3 separate regions of the Homo sapiens genome follow, and all the other regions are linked to region 2. Evidence: fine-mapped expression QTL. A gene starts in region 2. Each other region holds a variant in brackets. All regions are shown on one strand. Distances are between the middles of the regions. Region 1 holds the start of LINC01198 (long intergenic non-protein coding RNA 1198). Region 2 holds the start of RUBCNL (rubicon like autophagy enhancer). Region 3 overlaps RUBCNL (rubicon like autophagy enhancer).

What was found.
Region 1: its variant is fine-mapped to the expression of RUBCNL in whole blood (INTERVAL, PIP 0.94).
Region 3: its variant is fine-mapped to the expression of RUBCNL in whole blood (TOPMed, PIP above 0.99).

Annotation. Positions count from the first base shown.
Region 1 is chr13:46,466,726-46,473,567 of GRCh38, reverse strand. LINC01198 (long intergenic non-protein coding RNA 1198) reads left to right here and starts at 6,792. Exons shown (of 6, transcript NR_120426.1): 1 at 6,792-6,842. RefSeq lists a silencer at 6,663-6,837. The variant T/C (reference allele first, on the strand shown) is at 4,707.
Region 2 is chr13:46,383,185-46,390,391 of GRCh38, reverse strand. It overlaps RUBCNL (rubicon like autophagy enhancer), which reads left to right and starts at 3,140. Exons shown (of 15, transcript NM_025113.5): 1 at 3,140-3,258. RefSeq lists enhancers at 1-140, 2,364-2,473, 2,494-2,593, 2,624-2,903, 3,284-3,373 and 1 more.
Region 3 is chr13:46,345,385-46,352,591 of GRCh38, reverse strand. It overlaps RUBCNL (rubicon like autophagy enhancer), which reads left to right. Exons shown (of 15, transcript NM_025113.5): 11 at 2,241-2,479; 12 at 3,245-3,306; 13 at 6,992-7,145. Among named protein-coding and RNA genes, the nearest start is that of RUBCNL, 38 kb to the left of the region's middle. The variant G/A (reference allele first, on the strand shown) is at 3,701.

The DNA of each region.
Region 1 (6,842 bases), 83 kb before region 2:
CCAGCCCTATGCAACTTTTTTTTTCTTTTTTTTTTTTTTTGATACAGCGTCTCACTCTGTTGCCAGGCTGGAGTGCAGTGGTGTGATCTCGGCTCACTGCAACCTCTGCCTCCTGGGTACAAGCGATTCTCCAGCCTCAGCCTCCCAAATAGGTGGGACTACAGGTGCGTGCCACCAGGCCCAGCTAGTTTTTGTATTTTCAGTAGAGACAGGGTTTCACCATATTGGCCAGGCTGATCTCGCACTCCTGACCTCGTGATCTGCCTGCCTCGACCTCCCAAAGTGTTGGGATTACAGGCGTGAGCCACCGTGCCTGGCCCCTATGCAACATTTTTGATGAAAAAAAACTCAACTGACTTTTGAAGATAAAAGGAAGAGCCAGGTATGTTTGGATTTATATGAAGAGTTTACATTTAAATTGATTTGAAAATTCCTTTCATTCAACAATTAAATACAGATTTCATCTCTAATAAGAATTCATTTGTCTACAACTCAGAGTGGCCAAAGGAAATAGCAACACAGAGAACTTAGTCTATTGAATGAACAAATAACTCATTCACCAACAAGGCTGCTACCTCTTAGGATCTGCTGGGAACATGTGAGTGAAAAACTAAATGTAGGAATCAAGGTAAAACTTACTGTTTATCACCATAGGCAAACACATCAGTCACTGCATCATCTATCTCCTTCAAGTTGTGAACCAAAACATATCTGATACAGGTCTCAATCCATTTAGAGATAAATTGCCCAAGGTTAAGTATATGCAGCTGAGAGGCAGGTCTGTGCCTTTCTCCAGAGATGATTTTGAGGGCTTTAATATTTAAAGGGGAAAGAGCGGATACTGGGGAAAGAGGAAGAAATGTTTACAAGGTGTGGAAAGATACGAGACAAATGGTTGCATTCTTTTGAGTCTTTGATCAGCCTTTCACCAAATACGCAATTTACACGTGAGAGGAGGGTAAAGGAGTAGTCACTTACGCCTTAGTCTAGCTCAGTGAATGTGCATTTTTACAGAGGAAGCAATCAGATATGCATTTGTCTTAGGTGAGTACAGAGGGATGACTTAGAGCTCTGTCCTTTGTCCTGTACCTGTGAAGATAAGCTATCAGTTTACATTGTCAGGGTAAAATTCAACAGAACTGTTTTAGGGTAAAGATCTTGGGGCCCACAAGGAATTTCCTGATGAACAAATTGTGAGGGAGGTATGTAGCCTTTTAAAAAATCTTGGCCTGGTGTGGTGGCTCATGCCTATAATCCCAGCACTTTGGGAGGCTGAGGTGGGTGGATCACATGAGGCCAGGAGTTCGAGACCAGCCTGGCCAACATGGCAAAGCCCTGTCTCTACTAAAAACCCAAAAATTAGCCAGGCGTGGTGGTGCGTGCCTGTCATCCCAGCTACTCAGGAGGCTGAGGCAGGAGAATTGCTTGAACCCAGGAGGCGTAGGTTGCCGTGAGTGGATATTGTGCCATTGGACTCCAGCGTGGGCAACAAGAGTGAAACTCCATCTCAAAAAAAAACAAAAAAAAAATCTTTGGGCCGGGTGGGATGGCTCACATCTGTAATCCTAGCACACTGGGAGGCCAAGGTGAGCAGATCACTTGAGATCAGGAGTTCAAGACCAGCCTGGCCAACAAGGTGAAACCCTGTCTCTACTAAAAATACAAAAAATTAGCCAGACATGGTGGCAGGCGCCTGTAGTCCCAGCTACTCGGGAGGCTGAGGCAGGAGAATCGCTTGAACCTGGGATGCAGAGGTTGCAGTGAGCTGAGATTATGCCACTGCACTCCAGCCTGGGTGACAGAACGAGACTCCATCTTAAAATAAATAAATAAATAAATAAATAAATAAATAAATAAATAAATCTTTGTAGCTGTCTTATTTAGGAATAAAATGGGAGGCAGGTTTGCATGACACAGTTCCCAGCTTGGCTTTTTCCTTTGGCTTAGTGATGTTGGGGTTCCAAGATTTATTTTCCTTTCACAAAGCCAAATTTTAAAGGTCACGATAGAAATGGAGACTAAAGTTATTTGCTGTCATTCTTTATACATCTGACACTTCTAGTATCTAAACCATTAATGTATCCCTTGGTTTCCAACTATATAAATAGAACTTGGCCCACTCTTTTGTATAAAAAGTGAATCGTACCCCTGGCATATGTGGTGGAATGGTAATTTTATTAAGCAGTGAGTGTTGGTTAAATAAATTGTGGATCAGCCATATTATGGACTATTACACAGTCATTCAAAATCAGGTTTTTTGAAAGACATTTAGTGATTATAAAGCTGCTGATGCTATAATGTTGTTTCTAAAAGCTAGATATTTGATAAGATGATTTTTTTAATATGCGTATGTGTAACATATATACTGTGCATCCATATATGCAAAAAAGACTAAAAGAAAATATACCAAAATATTAATAATGGTTATAAGTTTTAGGATTATATATGATTTAGACATTTAGAATATTTTTCCATCCCAACTATTGTACAATGCACATATTATATTTAGTATAGAAAAAAAAATGTTGTTTAAGAATTGCTATCACTCCCAAAGTGTCTAATCTATTTTCTGGAACATTACCAAAAGATGAACATTAAATTAGACGTTGATAATGTCAGGAAGACAAATTTGATCATTTTGCAAACTATTTACTTTGGTTCCCTGGCCACATGCTACCCCAAATCTGCAGAGCTGTCCCTAAAACAAAAGACACAGATAACTGCTGGTGAAGCAGCTTGAAGTCGTTGTCTTTTTTTTTTTTTTTTTTTTTTGAGACAGAGTCTCACTTTGTTGCCCAGGCTGGATGGAGTGCAGTGGTGTGATCTCGGCTCACTGCAGTCTCCAACTCCAAGGTTCAAGCAATTCTCCTGCCTCAGCTTCCCAAGTAGTTGGGATCACAGGTGCCGCCACCACACCTGGCTAATTTTTGTATTTTTAGTAGAGACAGGGTTTCACCATGTTGGCCAGCCTGGTCTCGAACTCTGGGCCTCAGGTGATCTACCCACCTCAGCTTCCCAAAGTGCTGAGATTACAGGCATGAGCCACCACACCCGGCCTGAAGACCTTGTCTTTTCTTTTCTTTTTTTTTTTTTTTGAAACGGAGTCTCACTCTGTCACCCAGGCTGGAGTGCAGTGGCACGATCTCTGCTCACTGCAACCTCTGCTTCCCGGGTTCAAGTGATTCTCCTGCCTCAGCCTCATGAGTAGCTGGGATTACAGGCACCCGCCACCACGCCCAGCTAATTTTTTGTAATTTTAGTAGAGACGGGGTTTCACCACGTTAAGCAGGATGGTCTCGATCTCCTGACCTTGTGATCTGCCTGCCTCGGCCTCCCAAAGTGCTGGGATTACAGGCCCGGCCCAAGCCCTTGTCTTTTTTTTGTTTTGTTTTTAGCCTGGAGGGCAGTGGCGCGATCTCGGCTTACTGCAAGCTCTGCCTCCCAGGTTCACGCCATTCTCCTGCCTTAGCCTCCCGAGTAGCTGGGACTACAGGTGCCCGCCACTACGCCCAGCTAATTTTTTATATTGTTTTAGTAGAGATGGGGTTTCACTGTGTTAGTCAGGATGGTCTCGATCTCCTGACCTCGTGATCCGGCTGCCTCGGCCTCCCAGAATGCTGGGATTACAAGCGTGAGTCACCCACCGCGCCCGGCCCCAAGCCCTTGTCTTTTAATGGGTCAATTGCATCATCCTCACCTATGAATGACAGCACTGGAAATGGTGACTCCATGGGTAAATACATGGTTTTATTTTTCCTTTTCTTTTCTTTTTTTTGAGATGGTGTCTCTCTATGTTGCCTAGCCTGGTCTCGAACTCCTGGGCTCAAGTGATCCTCCTGCCTCAGCCTCCCAAAGTGCTAAGATTACTGGTGTGAGCCACCATGCCGGTCCAGCAATCCATGGTTCCATATAGGTGAATAGGAAGACTTTCTTTCTTATTATTTAGATATCTTTGAAAGATAATCAGTAGTTTAAAGCAAAATTAGCTCCATACTAAATATTCATACTAGCTATTTTAATTTTTATAATTATACTATTGAAGTGGATACTCTTATGCAGACTTTACAAATGAACAAACTGAAGTTTAGAGATTCTAAATATTCTAAATAAATAGGTCATATAGGCATATCATTATACTGTCTATTGCTCAATGCCCTTGACAGTGCACAGTTCCTTGGCTAAAAGTATGTGGAAGCAGGGAAAAATGAATCCAGCAATTACTATATTTAGCTGCTTTTACAAATGCCTCTTGGTTAAAAAAAAAAAAAAAAAGACATTCATTGGTAGACATTACCACATTGCCAAGTCACTCATAAATCTAAGTACGAAAGTCAGTAAAAAAGGATGATGTTATCTGATTCACTGAAAGGGAAATAAGCTGAGATCTGCTGCGTTAGGACAAAGGCCAGCTGGGCTTTATGAGAATTCAGATGGCAAGGAACAAGCTTTTTATGGCAATGACAGAGGGAGAAGGGAACAATATTATAAGGAAGAATCTTTGTGGTTCAAACAGATTATGTGGTTTATTATTTTCATTTAGATTAGGGAAAAAATCAGTGGGCACAGAATAAATAGCAACTGCCTCTTTCCCCCTCCCCAGCAAGCAGAATATTGATTTCCTCTTTGAGGAAAGGACACATTAAAAAGAATACTCTTGAGATGATAAATATGCTAATTAATGTGATCTAATCCCTATACATTATGTA[T/C]ATGGAAACACCACTATGTACCCCATGAATGTGTACAATTATTGTCAATTTAAAAATACAATTTTAAAAACACTCATTTTATTTTTTTAAATTAATTGTTCTTATTTTAAAAATTATTATTTTTTAGGGATGGGATCTCACTGCATTGCTCAGGCTGGTCTCAAACTCCTGGGCTCAAGCAATCTTCCTGCCTTAGCTTCCCAAAGTTCTGGGATTACAGGCATGAGCCACCACTCCCAGCCAAAAAAAAAAATACTCATTTAAAGCTGCACAAGTTTGATGGCACAAGTCTGTATAACTGGACCTGTGCCTTTATAAAACCTCAAACACTGCAAAGGTTCATGAAACAATGTATATCTATTCTTCTTATTCACTGTCATCAATGCTGACCAGGGAAAATTGCACAGGTGCACGTGTGTGTGTGTGTGTGTAGGGCTAGTGAAGCAGGCAACTACCAGAGATACATTATTAAAAAGCTAACATTTATTGGCCAGGCGCGGTGGCTTACGTCTGTAATCCCAGCACTCTCACGGGTGGTGCCTCCCCGGCAATGGGGGTCCCAAGATCCAGGGGGGGAAAAGGGGATGGCTCTCAGCCACCACAAAATGGGGGGCCTTTATGTTCAGGTTTTGCCCAAGAGTCAGCTTATTTGCTTCTTGTACTAGCAGGGCAGTTGCTGCCAAGGCCTCAAACAGGGGAGCCATCCTTCAGAAACCCTGTCTAGTTGTTCAGAGACGTAGGCCACCGGCCTCAGCCAGGGCCCCACAGTTTGGGTTAAAAGTCCAGCTGCCATCTTTTCTCTCTCTAACGCATACAATGGAAAAGGCTTTGTCAGATCGGGTAGCCCCAGGGCTGGGGCTGCCAGAAGTTTTTCCTTTAAGTCATGAAAGACTTGCTGTTCTTGGATCCCCATTCCAAAGGTTCCGGTCCCCGCCCCCTTTGTGACCTCATACAAAGGCTTGGCTAATACTGCAAAGTTTGGGATCCACAGTCTACAAAACCCCACATCCCCTGAGAATTCTCTCGCCTGCCTTAGGCACTTAGGCTCCGGGAGATTGCAAATAACCTGCTTTCTTTCTGTTCCCGGGCTGCGTTCGGACTCCTGTCAGATAGTAAATCCTAAGTAAGGTACCTGCCATCGGCAGATTTGAGCTTTCTTCTTGGACACCTAATACCCACAGTCCTCCAAGTGGGTCCTAAGGTTCTTAGGATCCGCGATGGGGGTCCTATGCCGGGGGGGACGAGGGGCTGGCTCTCAGTCCCTGCCTCGTTGGGGGTGCCTCCCACCCCTGCGATTGGTGTCCTAAGAGCCAGGGGGAGAAGAGGGGCTGGCTCTCAGTCCCCGCCTCGTGGGGGGTGTCTCCCCCCCTGCGATGGGGGTCCTAAGAGCCGGGGGCAGAATAGGGGCTGCCTCTGCGTCCCTGCCTCGTGGGGGGTGCCTCCCCCTCCTGGGATGGGGGCCCTAAGAGCCAGAGGGGGAAGAGGGGCTGGCTCTCAGTCCCTGCCTCGTGGGGGGTTGCCTCCCCCCCTGCGATGGGGTTCCTAAGAGCCTGTGGCGGATGAGGGGCTGGCTCTCAGTCCCCGCCTCGCAGGGGGTGCCACCCCCCCTGCGATGGGGGTCCCAAGAGCCACGGGGGGAAAAGGGGCTGGCTCTCAGCCACCACAAAATGGGGGGCCTTTATGTTCAGGTTTTGCCCAAGAGTCAGCTTATTTGCTTCTTGTACTAGCAGGGCAGTTGCTGCCAAGGCCCTCAAACAGGGGGGCCATCCTTTAGAAACCCTATCTAGTTGTTCAGAGACGTAGGCCACCGGCCTCAGCCAGGGCCCCACAGTTTGGGTTAAAAGTCCAGCTGCCATCTTTTCTCTCTCTAACGCATACAATGGCAAAGGCTTTGTCAGATCGGGTAGCCCCAGGGCTGGGGCTGCCAGAAGTTTTTCCTTTAAGTCATGAAAGACTTGCTGTTCTTGGGATCCCCATTCCAAAGGTTCCCGGTCCCCGCCCCCTTTGTGACCTCATACAAAGGCTTGGCTAATACTGCAAAGTTTGGGATGCACAATCTACAAAACCCCACAGCCCCTGAGAATTCTCTCGCCTGCCTTCGGCCCTTAGGCTCCGGGAGATTGCAAATAACCTGCT
Region 2 (7,207 bases):
CTTCCCTGGTGCTTGTCTGGGCTTCTCTCCCATGCAAAATCATCAGTCTTTCTTCCTGGGACTTCTATGTGGTGAAGATGCCATTAGGCACCCTCTGGTAGCTTATAATGCAGTTCATTTCATCTCATTTCCTTCCTGTTTTGTACAGAGACTGGTTTCCCCTTTGCTGACTGTCAGCTGAGTTCAAAACTGGGGTCAAAGCTCTGCTCACAGCACAAATCACTTCTTGTGAAGCCTGGCTGGGTTTTGGCAGGCAGCTGCTAGGCTTTCGGTCTTTTATGAGGCTATCCTGGCCACAATGGAGCTTTGTGTGTGATCAATGGGTGCTGGGCATGAGCCCGGCTGGGCTAGCTGACACAGTGAGTTGTCCCTGACACTCATGACTTTCAAGCCCTGTGTCTTGGAGGGCACTGTGATCTGGAAGTTCACCTTCCCCATGAAAAAACCCAAACCAGCCTCTCCTTTTCCTGCATGGTGATCCGTCTGTAATGATCAGTGACATTCTCAGAATTAACCAATCAGGAAATTCTTGGAAAGTCCACGCCTCAGCATTTAGTGCTTGGGAAATTCTACTTCCAGATCCCAGAGGGGACAGAGCAGATTTCCAGTGAGCATTCCTAACTTGAAAAACCTGTCCTTGAATGTTTCTCCTTAGTCCTAGAGATGCTCTTTCAGAATGTGAACCTCCTGCGTCTGTGACGAGATGTAGAAGGTCTATACTCAGAGTTAGTAGGATGTCCACGTGATAGTGCCTAGGCCTGCCTTATGGCAGTTTTGAGAAAGGTGATTTCAGAGTGGCTTCAGAGGGGATGACTAAAGCCCACAATCTTGGTCCAAAATATCCTAATCTCCCTACAAAAACGATTTTCTTGCCTTGGACTATGTCCAGTCTGCCAACTAGTACAGCTGTTTCTGGTTTTTGACTCACTGATTTACCTGGCATGACATTTCCTCTTGTTTCAAGATTCTTTCTCTAAGTTCCTCCTGACTCCTCTTTCCCTTTAAGTATTCCTGAAACTGGCTCTTGCCTGGTCCCTTTATTTCATTATTCTTCCATCTTGCTGGTAGTATGGTGGAAATTGGACATAGGGTTTGGTGTCAGATACACCTGCCTTCAAAGCCTAACTGTGCTACCTATTAGCTCTGTGACCTTGGGCAAGTTATTTGAACCTAAGTCATAGATTTCCCCCTTGCGAAATGGGAACAAATGATTTGTTATTCTCAGGGATGTTCACAGACTTGCTTAAAATAATAAGAAAAAGTACCTGGCACATAGCCGATACTCAAAAAATGTTAGCACACACCCACACCTTTTTCTTTCTGATTCATTTAAGGTAAGCCCTTCCCAATCGGCCTTCAGCTGACCTGAATTCCTGGGATACTGTATTTGGAATTTTAAATATTCCAAATATCCAGAGTTCTTGCAGGTCAAAGCTGGTCTATGCTCCAAACAGGCTGCCCCCAAGGGAAGCAGGGTAATTGGCAGCTAGTATTCATCTGACTTTTGTCATATTGATTCAATATTTTATCTGAAGATGGCAGCAACTAGTACATGGTGCCACCGTTTAGCCACTCCATGCCAGAGGTACCAGGCAAGTAAAAGCCAAATTACCAGTGCCTCTGCTCCATCCTGGAAATGACAAAGGACAAAGCCAAGGAACCCAGGAAAGTGCAACGGGATTTGGTTTTATGCAGCAGGGAATCTTCTAAGAAAGCCAGGACCGGTTCACCTACGTGTCATTACCAGTGCAGGCAGCTCAGAGGTCCTTCCCCGGGAGAAGTCAGGGCACCGCGAGAGAGAGCTTAGCTTCCTTCCTTCCTCCATCCCTCCCTCCCTTCCTTCTGGGACTTAGGTTCCTTCCTTCCTTCCTTCCTTTCTACTTTTCTTTCCTTCCTTCCTTCCTTGGCTTTGGTTCCTTCCTTCCTTCTACCTTCCTTCCTTCCTTCTTTCCTTCCTTCCTGGGCTTAGGTTCCTTCCTTCCTTGGCTTAGATTCCTTCCTTCCTTCGCCCTTCCTTCCTTCCTTTCTTTGCTTTCCTTCCTTCCTTCCTTCCTTGGCTTAGGTTCCTTCCTTCCTTCCTTCCTTCTTCCCTCCCTCCCTCCCTTGGGTTCCTTCCTGCCTGCCTGCCTGCCTTCCTCCCTCCCTCCCTCCTTCCCTTCTTCTCCTTTCTGTTTTTTTTTTTTTTTTTTTTTGACAGTCTTGCTCTGTCGCCCAGGCTGGAGTGCAATGGCGCGATCTCGGCTTACTGCAACCTCCGCCTCCCGGGTTGCTCCTGCTTCAGCCTCCCTAGTAGCCGGCATAACAGGCACCCGCCACCACGCTCGGCTAATTTTTATATTTTTAGTAGAGACAGGCTTTCACCATGTTGGCCAGGCTGGTCTCGAACTCCTAACCTCAAGTGATCCATCCGACTTGGCCTCCCAAAGTAGGTGCTGGGATCACAGGCTTGAACCACCGCACCCGGCCAGAGCTTAGGTTTCTATTCGTGACAACTTTCTGTATTGGTTGGCAGGTTCTCCTAGCACCACCATGATCTCAGGACTAACCACTGCACACCCGTGATGGGATTCCAAACCTTCGCTGCAAGAGGACAAGGTGACGAGTTGCTGACAGTGAAGGCTAAACTAACGCGGACAGTGAAGTGCTACATGAGTCGGACTCAGACTCCAGGTGAAGCAGCCAGCAGAGGTCAGAGAGAGACAGCTCACGTTCCGGGTAAGTTGCAGGTCGATTTCAGGGCCGACTCATCCAGATTACTCATTCTTCATTTCAGGCAATTGTATGACTGCTAAATACTGCTGCTGGGGGCATCTGGGGTTGGGAAGTCATTTCTGCCAGGTCTTTGACCCCTGAAAGCGTCGTTGCGTCTCGCGCCGCGGGTAGGCAGGGCGGGATTTCTAGGAGGACCGGCAGAGGCGCGCATAGGTGCGTGGTGCTGGGCCCGGGCGCCGCGGCACCGGTGTAGGAGCGCGCATCTCCAGAGTTTCTTCCATCTGGGCGACGTCTCGGTGCCTGCGGCGGGAACGGCGCTTTGCTTCCCTGAGGAGCTTCTAGAGAGCTACGGTGGCCCCCGTGTGGGAGGCGGGGGGCGTGGCGGCGTCGGGGCGTCGCTGTCCCCTCCTCGGTAGCTCTCCTCCCTCCCCTTTCTGCTGTTACCGGGAGCGCGGTGGCCACGGAACGCTGCCCGGAGCCGCGCGAGGGAGGACCCGACGCGCGGCGTTTACCCAGCGCAGCGTTCCACCGCTCGGGTTTGGCTGGGTGAGGCTGGCGGGGCCGGGGGCGAGATGGGAGCGGCGCGGGGTGGAGAGGGTGGTTGGAGAAAGGGAAGGGAGGGCCGCGGGAGAGGTTGGATGGTGGAAGTGGCGCCAGAGAGGTTTGTGCCCAGCAGAGACACCCAGGTATCTTAGGGTCGCTCAGAGCAGTGTCGGGGACCCCTTGGAGACAGTAGGAAGGGGCTCCTCGCGGGGTGGCGGATTTCTATCCGGTTGACTTTGTAGAGTGAGGTTGACCCTGTGTTCGGCTTGGGCCGGGAAGGGCGCAGAAGCGGGACCTCAGGACACTTTTACGCAGGGCGATTCTCAGAGACTACAAAGCCTGCGCCCTGCGTCCTCCCAGGCGCAGTGTTCTGGGATCAGTGTCTTTTCTCTGTTTTCGTCCTCAACACAGCCAAAGTCGTGGATATGTGGTGACAGAAAAACATTTGGCTACATAACTGAGCTAGGCTGGAGTGTGAAATCGCGGCGTGTTATTTGGTCCGGGCGCCCTACATAGCAACCCCCACTCTTCTCGCCCCCAACCCCCCGCCACGCCGGACACGGTCAGGCGGGCGTTCCCCCAACCCGCCCCTTGTGAAGTCCACCTGCTGAGACTGATACAGATCCCCTGCGAACTTGATGCTGTCCGCTTGGAAAACGTGGAGAACTTTCAGAGGAGGGGTTATTTCGCCTTGAGTGAAAATTAAGACTCAAAGGAAAAGGTATACTCAAGAGCTGCCCTTACTGGGTTATTTCTGTGGAATTTGGAAGGATCTTTGAATTGAAGATGTGGTGGGAGCGCGCAGAGAACAGAGAATCCGTAAGCTTGAGTTTCTTAGACCCAGTTTCTTAAAGCCAAAGTAGCGGGGAGATCTTGGCAAGTCAAGAAACCTTCTTGAACTTCAGTTCCCTTGCCTCAGGGGGAGAATACTCCAGCCATACCCCACTGTGTGGTTTAGAAGGTTAATGGCCTGGAGGGAGGGAAGTGTTTTGAAGCCTATAAAGTATCCTGTGAAGGTATCACCACATTGCTGCCCACTGAAACACTGCCGGCCGCCGACAGAACTTTGTTTGGAGCCGAGTTAAGACAGCATCTTTATGGCAGTGCTGGGGTTTTCGTGATTACCGGTCCAGAGTGTCAGGACACCTCTGTTTCTCAAACCCCAGTTTCTGCACTGCCACATGAAACTGCTCATTACTGAGTGACAGCAGAGGACAGGAACTTTGCCTTCTTCATTAACTTCTTTAGGGCCTTTACAAAGTGGGAGATGGTAGGAACTTTGATGAAAATTGAGGGTCATAGCCTTGGAGCGGGGTGAGGGGTTAGATTTGACTGGACATAGTCTTCATGCAACCGTTTAACAACAAAAACATTGTTGGCTGAGTTCTTGTTTTTTGATACAAGGAACATTCTGTCGGAGCCAAGGTTAAACATCCAAGAGTAAACGTTTGTTGGTTTTTTTTTTTTTTTGCATGATCTTTAGAGGATAAGTAAAAAACTAAAGAAAGGCTGCATTGCTTGCTGACACATTTTTTCCCCACCCATCTGAAGGCACACAAATAATAGCACTGGCAAATTTGAATAGTTTCCCTTGTTACCAAATCTACGTTCTTATTTCTAATATGGAACGATTATTTCTAGTATGGAGAGAAATATGGAATTTCTAATATGGAAGATTTAGCATGGTGTGTCATTGTAAAAATTTAGGCAGTTCTTGGATAAGTATGTCCAGCCTTCCAGAGACTATAAGTGTAGTAATATTAGTGCCTGTTAGTCATATTGTGTATCTTCCTGATACCCAATTAGATCTCTGATTGTTTTTTCTTTTTAATTAAAAGGAGCTGAAAGATGACTCAGTTAAGAAGCTGGAAAATAAAACCAGGTCTCTGTAACTGTGCTGTCTTATTCTGAACTGAAAGTCTTTCTGCAATAATAATGATGGTGATAATAAAGCTAACCTTCATAGGACATTGTGTACCAGACTGATACACGTGCTACAATTCTGTTCGTTCTCACACCATCCTTCATGGGGGAGGTTAAGAGCATTGCTCAAAATCACACAGCTAATAAGTCATTTTTCTCAGATTGGCGTTAAAATTATATTTAATTGGGTCCTGTGTGTGCGAGTGTTTTAACTTTTGCATTGTCTTTTATCCCACACACGGAGGCAACATGGATGGTGAGACTAGGGGCTATGGACAAGGTTCCAGGGTTTGGACTTGAGCATGCTGCTGAGTGGCTATGTGGTCATCACTTTACTTCCTTTTCTAACCCGTAAAATGATGATAATAATTCTACATTGAATGAATCCTTTGTTTCTACTGAGCCCAAAGTCTGCTCCGTAAAGGTAAAATACTTCTCAGAGTGTAGAAAGAAAAGTTTCAGATTCAAGCCTTTTTGTCATCAGTAGGCTGGAAAATGAATAGAAGTTAGAATAAACTATACACTTAATGTGATTTTTCCAACAATTATGTTGAAAAATTGTTCAAAAATGCATTCATTCCAATGATCCTTAGCTTTATATTTATTAAAAGAAGTAAATGTAAATTAGACCTCAACGTTTTTTTTTAACAGGTAACGTTGAAAAGCACCCACAGTAAGCAGGTACTGTTTGCTGGTTGATTTTAGATGATGAAAATTGTAGAGTAAGTACGTTTGCAGAAAACTGTAGAGTAAGTACAATTATAGAGTAAGTATAAGAAGAATTGTATTCAAAGGTATTGTATTATTCTTATAAAGAAATGTATTCTTCTTATACTTTTTTACGTTCTTTTATTCCGACAAGCTAGAGTTGATCAGAAAAGAACTGAATTCCAAAAATATGTTTAGGGCACTTCCCTATTCTCTCTGTATTTACTTGGAAATGATTCTTAGAAGTTTTTGGCATGGGACTTTTAAGTTTGTTAAGTGAAGGGACTAGCACTTATCTATATGCATATTTTGCAAGTATTTTTAAAAATATGGCTCAATTGTTAAATCATTTTATTCGTCCCATGACTTATATAAAAATCTGGGGGTTTTTTGGTTGCTCACTTTTAGTTTAGGCTTGGTTTTATGGTGATCTGGGCTCAGGGAGGTAGACATGTCAATGTCATTAGCATTGCCAAGGTATAGGCAGTCTGCTGCATGCTGTGTGAATATTAATATTCTGAAGAGATATTTGAGTCCACAAGATTTAAAGATCTTCTGTTCACCGCTGTGCTTGTAGAATTAGGGCTAAATTAGTTTAGCCTGGGCCTCCTGGGTCTTGGTCATTTGAAAATAGCTCCTCAAGTAGGCTGGCTATGTGTCTTAGTATAGCAGAAACAATTCATTATTCACTCCATGTGTCGTCTATTATACTGTGAAATTACAGATGATAGTTTTCTTGCTTTCTGTTTTTCCAAACAGTGCCACCTGGACTTGTGGGTTTGGCTCATATACTGACTGTTTCTTAATCAAGATAGCTTTAATAGTCTTCACCCTACCCCCATCCTCCAGCTGCCCTTTGGATGTTGCTGTGTAGAAACCAAGAGAGTTCATTTTTGTTGGGGGCTGGGCTAGGTTGCTAATAATCTGAAGCACCATGAAGGATTCTGACCTAATCAAGGCATAAGGAAATGATGTGTGTGTGTGTGTAGAAAATTTGGAACTGTGCCAGGCACAAAGTAAATGTCATATAAGCATTAGTTATGAATTGATGAGGAGGAAGGTGTCAGAAGATGAATGCTGTAGAGAAGGCTATGGGGCAGTACATGGAGAGAGTGGTTATCTGTAGAGATGTGGTTTTGTCATAGGTGATGGGAAAGGTCTCAGTTTGAAGGTGATGGGTAAGGTCTTCATTTGAATAAAGATCCACAAGAGAGTATGGGTAGAGGGGCATAGAGGTGTCCAGGTAGCAGATAAGGAGGTCAGATAGGCAACCTAGGGACTCCTGGACAGATGTAGCAAATTGAAGGTTTTTAGAAAACTT
Region 3 (7,207 bases), 38 kb after region 2:
CTCAGGTGATCTGCCCACCTCGGCCTCCCAAAGTGCTGCGATTACAGGTGTGAGCCACCGCACCCGGCCAGGCCTTGTTTATTTTTAAAGCCATTATTTGGAAATGATCTTCAGAATCTACAGTGTACGGGTTCTACAGCAGCTGCTTTCCCATCCATGATTTCATTAATCCTCCCAGTATATGGCAACTAAGATTTCTGTTATGCTGTATGGTATTTTAGTTACAAAGACGTACATGACTCAAACTATGAATGATAAATATCAAACTTGGTTCATGTCAGAACCTAGTGTTGAGGGAGGGGCACATAGAAGACTTCAACTGAATTGTTTTCTTTCTGAAGCTGGGTGGTGAGTGCACAGGTATTTGTTGCATTAGTTTTTATACCTTTTGTTTGTTAATGTATTTTATTAGACACATTTCCAAAAGTGGTCAATGAGTGTTTATTTTAGTAGGTTAGAAAGTGCAGTGGGCGTGGTGGCTCACGCCTGTAATCCCAACACTTTGGGAGGCCAACATGAGTGGATCACTTGAGGTCAGGAGTTTGAGACCAGCCTGGCCAACATAGTGAAACCCCATCTCTACTAAAAATACAAAAATTAGCCGGGCATGGTGGCACGCCCTGTAGTCCCAACTACCGGGGAGGCTGAGGCAGGAGAATCACTTGAACCCAGGAGGGAGAGGTTGCACTGAACTGAGATCATGCCACTGCACTCCAGCCTGGGCAACAGAGCGAGACTCCTTCTCAAAAAAAAAAAAAAAAAAGTGTAAAGAGCAAAAATTCCTTCTTTCTCCTACCCTCCAGAAATAGTCACTGTTGGCTTTTTGGTGGGGATTTAGACAGTGAATATATGTTTATGTGTATGTTTATATATATGTTCTTAAATAAAATTGAGATCACATTATACCTATTTGTAACTGGATGTCCACTTCCTATGCTCTTCCGTGTACTTTATGGGCTGTACAGCATTTCATGTTGAGTGCACCATACTTATTTAACCAATTGCCTTTTGATGGACATTTTGGCTGCCACCCCCATTATAAATGTGCTGTAATGAACACCTTTTTATATCACTATGTGTGCCTGTTAGCACTTCTGTCTGATGGAGTAACAGAAGCAGGATTACTGTTACACATGTGAGAATTGAAGTCTATCACAAAAATGTCTTCCTACAAATTAGTTCTATCAGTGCTAGACGTAAGTGCCCTCCTCTAGATACTGCACCAGTTCTGGGTCTTCTAAATTTATGACAGGCTGAGTCAAAACAGAGTATCTCACTTTTCTTTTCTTTCATTTCATTTCAATTTAATTTTATTATTTGTCATCAATTTGTGACAGGGTCTCGCTCTGTTGCCCAGGCTGGATGGAATGCAGTGACATGATGATGGCTCACTGTAGCCTCCACCTTCAAGCAATCCTCCTGCCTTAGCCTCCCAAGTAGCTAGGACCACAGGCACACACCACATTGCCTGGCTAATTTTTTTTTTTTTTCTGTGGAGATGGGGTCCCACTATGTTGCCCACGCTGGTCTTGAACTCCTGGGCTCAAGCAGTCCTCCCATCTTGGCCTCCCAAAGTGCTAGGATTACTGGTACAAGCCACTGTGCTCAGCCTCACTTTTAAAATATGCATTTTTTTGTTTCTGAGATTGTTTTTCTCTGTTAGTTATCTGCATTTCTTCTTTCCGTGAATTACCTATTCCCATCCTTTGTGCATTTTTGTATTTTTTTCTCATTGATTTATCAAGGTCTTTATGATGCTGCTTCCTAACATTGTATATATACTGCTTCACAATTTATAAAGCACTTTTCCTATGTGTAATAACACTCGATCCAGTTCTGAGTTGCATTTTGTGGTCTCAGAATAGTTAGCCTAACCTGCCTTCAGTCTTCCTGCTAGTGAGAGGAGTCTGGACTCCCACCCAGATTTCCAGATCCTAAAATGAATGTTCCTTTTGCTACACTGCAGTTTGCAATTTCCATCTTCCAAATCCAGGAGTATTTTGGGAAGGTTTTGTTTTTCTGACGTCTGTTCCACAAGAGCAGAGCTCATGAATGGCCATGATTTAATTCCCCAAGTCTCTGCTGGAGCCTTCCCAGCTGTCATGAGGTTGAGTATGGCTTTATCATCATGAAACAAGTCATCAGAGTCTTTGAATCTTGCGTAGGAATTGGAAGTCGGGGTATACCAGGATAGGTTTTCAGCACCAGGTGTGGCACTCACCCTCCGGTATGCTTGGCAGAGTTTGTGAAGCGGCTCCGGTACTGCGAATACCTAGGGAAGTATTTCTGTGACTGCTGCCACTCATATGCAGAGTCGTGCATCCCTGCCCGAATCCTGATGATGTGGGACTTCAAGAAGTACTACGTCAGCAATTTCTCCAAACAGCTGCTCGACAGCATATGGCACCAGCCCATTTTCAATTTGCTGAGCATCGGCCAAAGCCTGTATGCGAAAGCCAAGGAGCTGGACAGAGTGAAGGTGAGCCGCAGCCCCAACCCCATCCCTCTCATTGGAAGTGTCCTGTGGCAGGAAATGCACATCACACTAGCTTGGGGAACCCACAGATACATCCTCTAAGAGGCAAATGGATCATAAAGCGAGTGAAGCGGCTGGGCGCAGGGGCTCACACCTGTAATCCCAGCACTTTGAGAGGCCAAGGTGGGCGGATTGCCTGAGGTCAGGAGTTCGAGACTAGCCTGGCCAACATGGTGAAATCCCATCTCTACTAGAAATTAAAAAAAAAAAAATTAGTCAGGTATAGTAGCACACGCCTGTAATCCCAGCTACTCGAGAGGCTGAGGCAGGAGAATCGCTTGAACCCGGGAGGTGGAGGTTGCAGCAAGCCGAGATTGCACTACTGCACTCCAGCCTGGGTGACAGAGCAAGACCCTGTCTCAAAAAAAAAAAAAAAATTAGTGAAGCTTACACTTTGGAGCCCCTCTCCTGCACAGGCTCTTTCCAAGGCCCCACACTGAATCTTATACTTAGTATTATGTTTTTCTTGAAGAAGGCCCCAAAGTTCTGTAAGTTTTAGGTTCTACAAAACCTGGATCCATCCAGGGCACACTTTGTGGATCAGCAGACTCAGTTGTGAAGGCTTGCTGTATAGGCGGTTTGCTTTCAAGGTTTGTTTTATACAAGTGCAGCATTTCAAGCTTAGAAATAACATTTAAATTTGACTTGCACTTTTCCCGTGTCATTTATTACATTTAACTTTTCCCCGTGTTTGGTTTCTCCCATTAGGAAATTCAGGAGCAGCTCTTCCATATCAAGAAGCTGTTGAAGACCTGTAGGTTTGCTAACAGGTACTATTCTCAGCTGGGACAGGCTGCCTTCCCTCCATACATCTGCTAATCCTATTAGTGCCTCCTGCATCTGGCTCCCCCATTACACAGGGCTTCTTAGCACAGTGATGACCTCATGGCTTTCCTTGGGAAATCATGCCATCTCTTTGAATTACTAAGCCAATAGTGGGATGCATTAGTCTGTTCTCAAGTAGCTAATAAAGTCATACCAGAGATTGGGTAATTTATAAAGGAAAGAGGTTTAATTGACTCACAGTTTTGCATAGCTGGGGAGGCCTCACAATCATGGTAGAAAGTGAACAAGGAGCAAAAGCACGTCTTACATGGTGGCAGGCAAAGAGAGAGCATTTGCAGGGGAACTCTCCTTTATAAAGCCATCAGATCAGCCAGGCAC[G/A]GTGGCTCACACCTGTAATCCCAGTACTTTGGGAGGCCGAGGTGGGTGGATCACGAGGTCAAGAGATCGAGACCATCCTGGCCAACATGGTGAAACTCTGTCTCTACTAAAATTACAAAAATTAGCTAGGCGTGGTGCTGCATGCCTGTAGTCCCAGCTACTTGGGAGGCTGAGGCAGGAGAATCGCTTGAACCTGGGAGGCAGAGGTTGCAGTGAATCAAGATCGCACCACTGAACTCCAGCCTAGAGACAGAACGAGATTCCGTCTCAAAAAAAAAAAAAAAATCAAATCTCGTGAGACTTATTCACTACCATGAGAACAACACAGGAAAGACGTGCCTCATGATTCAATTACCTCCCACCAGGCTCCTTCCATGACATGTGGGAATTATGGGAGCTACAGTTCAAGATGAGATTTGGGTGGGGACACAGCCTAACCGTATAATGGAGAATTTAACTCATTAAGAAGAATGGTTTAGTTGGAGGATGAACAACTCTAGCCAGTGACCTTTTTATTATTATTATTGTTATCATTAAATTGTGGTAAATACATATAAAATTTACCATCTTAACCATTTTTAGAATACACTTCAGTGGCATTAAAGTATTAACATCGTTATGCAATCATCACCACCATGCAGCCCCCAAACTCTTTTCATCTTGCAAAACTAAAACTCTGTATCATTTAACAACTCCCCATTCCCTCTTCCTCTTAGCCTAACTCCTGGCAGCCACTATTCTACTTTCTGTCTCCATGATTTTGCCCACACACATGCCTTATATAAGAGGAATCTTACAGTATTTGTCTTTTTGTGACTGGCTTGTTTGACTTAGCATAAAGTCCTCAAGGTTCATTCATGTTGTAGCATGTGTCAGAATTTCCTTCCTTCTTTTTTTTTGAGACGGAGTCTCCTTCTGTCGCCCAGGCTGGAGTGCAGTGGCGCGATCTCGGCTCACTGCAAGCTCCGCCTCCCGGGTTCACGCCAGTCTCCTGCCTCAGCCTCCCAAGTAGCTGGGACTACAGGCGCCCGCAACCACATCCGGCTAATTTTTTGTGTGTTTTTAGTAGAGACAGGGTTTCATCATGTTAGCCAGGATGGTCTCGATCTCCTGACCTCGTGATCTGCCCGCCTCGGCCTCCCAAAGTGCTGGGATTACAGGCATGAGCCACCGCGCCCAGCCAGAATTTCCTTCCTTCTTAAGTTTGAATAATATTTCATTGTATGTATATACTACATTTTTTTAATCCATCTATTCATCCATGGACACTAGGGTTGCTTCCCCTCCTTGGCTATTGTGAATAAAGTGGATATGACCATGAGTATACCAGGGGCCTTTTAAAACCCCTTATAGGGAGGCATGTCTAACCAAGTGGAACCATGGTCTTCAAAAATTGTACTTTTGGAAGTTTATCCTAAGGACATACCGATGGATATAGGTAGAGATTTAAAGTATAGTTTTTTTTGTTGTTTTTGGTTTTGTTTTAAGACAGAGTCTAGCTCTGTCACCCAGTTTGGCGTGCAGTGGTACAGTCTTGGCTCACTGCAGCCTCTGCCTCCCAGGTTCAAGCGATTCTCGTGCCTCACCCTCCCAAGTAGGTGGGATTACAGACATGTGCCATCACACCTGGCTAATTTTTGTTATTTTTAGTAGAGACAAGGTTTCACCATGTTGGCCAGGCTGGTCTTAAACTCCCGACCTCAGGTGATCCGCCTGCCTCAGCCTCCCAAAGTGCTGGGGTTACTAGTTTTGTTTTTAAATAAGAAAAGGCATTAAAAGTCTATTAAGAGGTATTATGCTCTCTCCCTGGGTGATGGGATCATTGATACTCCAAACCTCAGTGTCCTGCGATATACCTGTGTAACAAACCTGCACACATACCCCCAAATCTAAAATAAAAGTTGAAATTATTTTAAAAATCTAGGTGTTCGTAATAGGGCAGTACTTACATTAATACCATGTCCGTAGAATAGAATACTATACAACCAGTAAAGACTTAGGCATGAATTCATTGAGAGAGAGATTTTTAAGTAGAAAAAGCATAGGTTGCTCAAGGAAGTTAAGATTGTTTATTGTACTTGGTGGAATTATAGAGTTTTTAAATAAATGGTTTAGCTTTAAAGCGTTTTTTTCAGTCTCTAATCTTTAATGATGATGTATTGCTTTTTAATTAAATTTTGGGGGAAGGAGCATGTATTCTGGAGTCATTTGGTTTTGAGCCTTTGCTTCATGGCCTTGGCGTGGCATTGGTCTCAGGGCCTCGGTTTTTTCATCCACAACATAGAACAATACCTATACTTCCTACCTTGTACAAAAAATCTTGAATATCCATTCTGGGCTTCAGATAAAAAAAATTAGTAGATCTGTATTAAGTCCAGGGGGATGGTCAGCACCAACCGATCACTGCTGGACTGAGTGTTAGACACGTGTCGGGGGACCATGAGGATACAAACGGAGGCAGCATTTAGCTCAGTTAGGAGTGAGATAGGGTAGACCGCAAGCAAGGATTCCAGGAGAAAAAGGCTGAGCTTGAAGAGTAAGGTGGAGCAAAGAAGAGGGATTGGGGATTCTCCAGGCAGAGGATGCCGCAGGAGTGGGCACCTCAGGCTGGGTGCAGAATTGAAGAGAATTTGGCATTGTAGCATGCCAAGTCCAGTGTAGGCCATGGCTGTCTTGGAAGTGCAGGGAATAGTGCTTCTACTAGCCATTGAGAGAATTCAGGTCGACACCTGCCGGGTTTGGAGAAGATGAAGTTTTGAATGCCCTAGGGACCATGACCACTGGCAGTTGGCTGCATGAGCCTTAAGCTCAGTGCCTGACTCGTGCATTTGGAAGTCATAGGCTTGCCGAGTGAGTGAGAATTTTCGCAGCTGAGCCAACAGTCCATAAGGCTGATAGACTTGAAATGTAGCTGGAAGAAATAAGGTAGGAATTTTGATTACTTGGTAATCAAAGGGTACTAGGTTCACATTCTTTAAGACCTAAAAAACTAATGCTCAGTTTTCTTTTGCTCAATGTGTGCATGGGCAGGCTGTAAGAGATACAGGTCTCTGCTTATTCAGCTTTTTGAAATCAGCTTTCATGGAATTTTAACTTCCTGGCTTCCAAGCAAACTTGCAACATGTAGAATGGTGGCGAGCATGGTTCACTGTTGTTCTTGGAGCTATTTATTTTTTAAATTGAGTTAAAAAAAAATTAAGTGTGAGTGCCAAGAGAAAACAACTGGCCCCATTCTTCCCTGTCCTCTGTGTGGGTGGGTTTCTGAATTCCTCTTTGTTTCCTCTCTGGCAGTGCATTAAAGGAGTTCGAGCAGGTGCCGGGACACTTGACTGATGAGCTCCACCTGTTCTCCCTTGAGGACCTGGTCAGGATCAAGAAAGGGCTGCTGGCACCCTTACTCAAGGACATTCTGAAAGCTTCCCTTGCACATGTGGCTGGCTGTGAGGTGAGGGTGCACCCAGAGCAGATTCGTTCCCGATGCACCAGGGCCTGTGCTGGGTGTTCCGC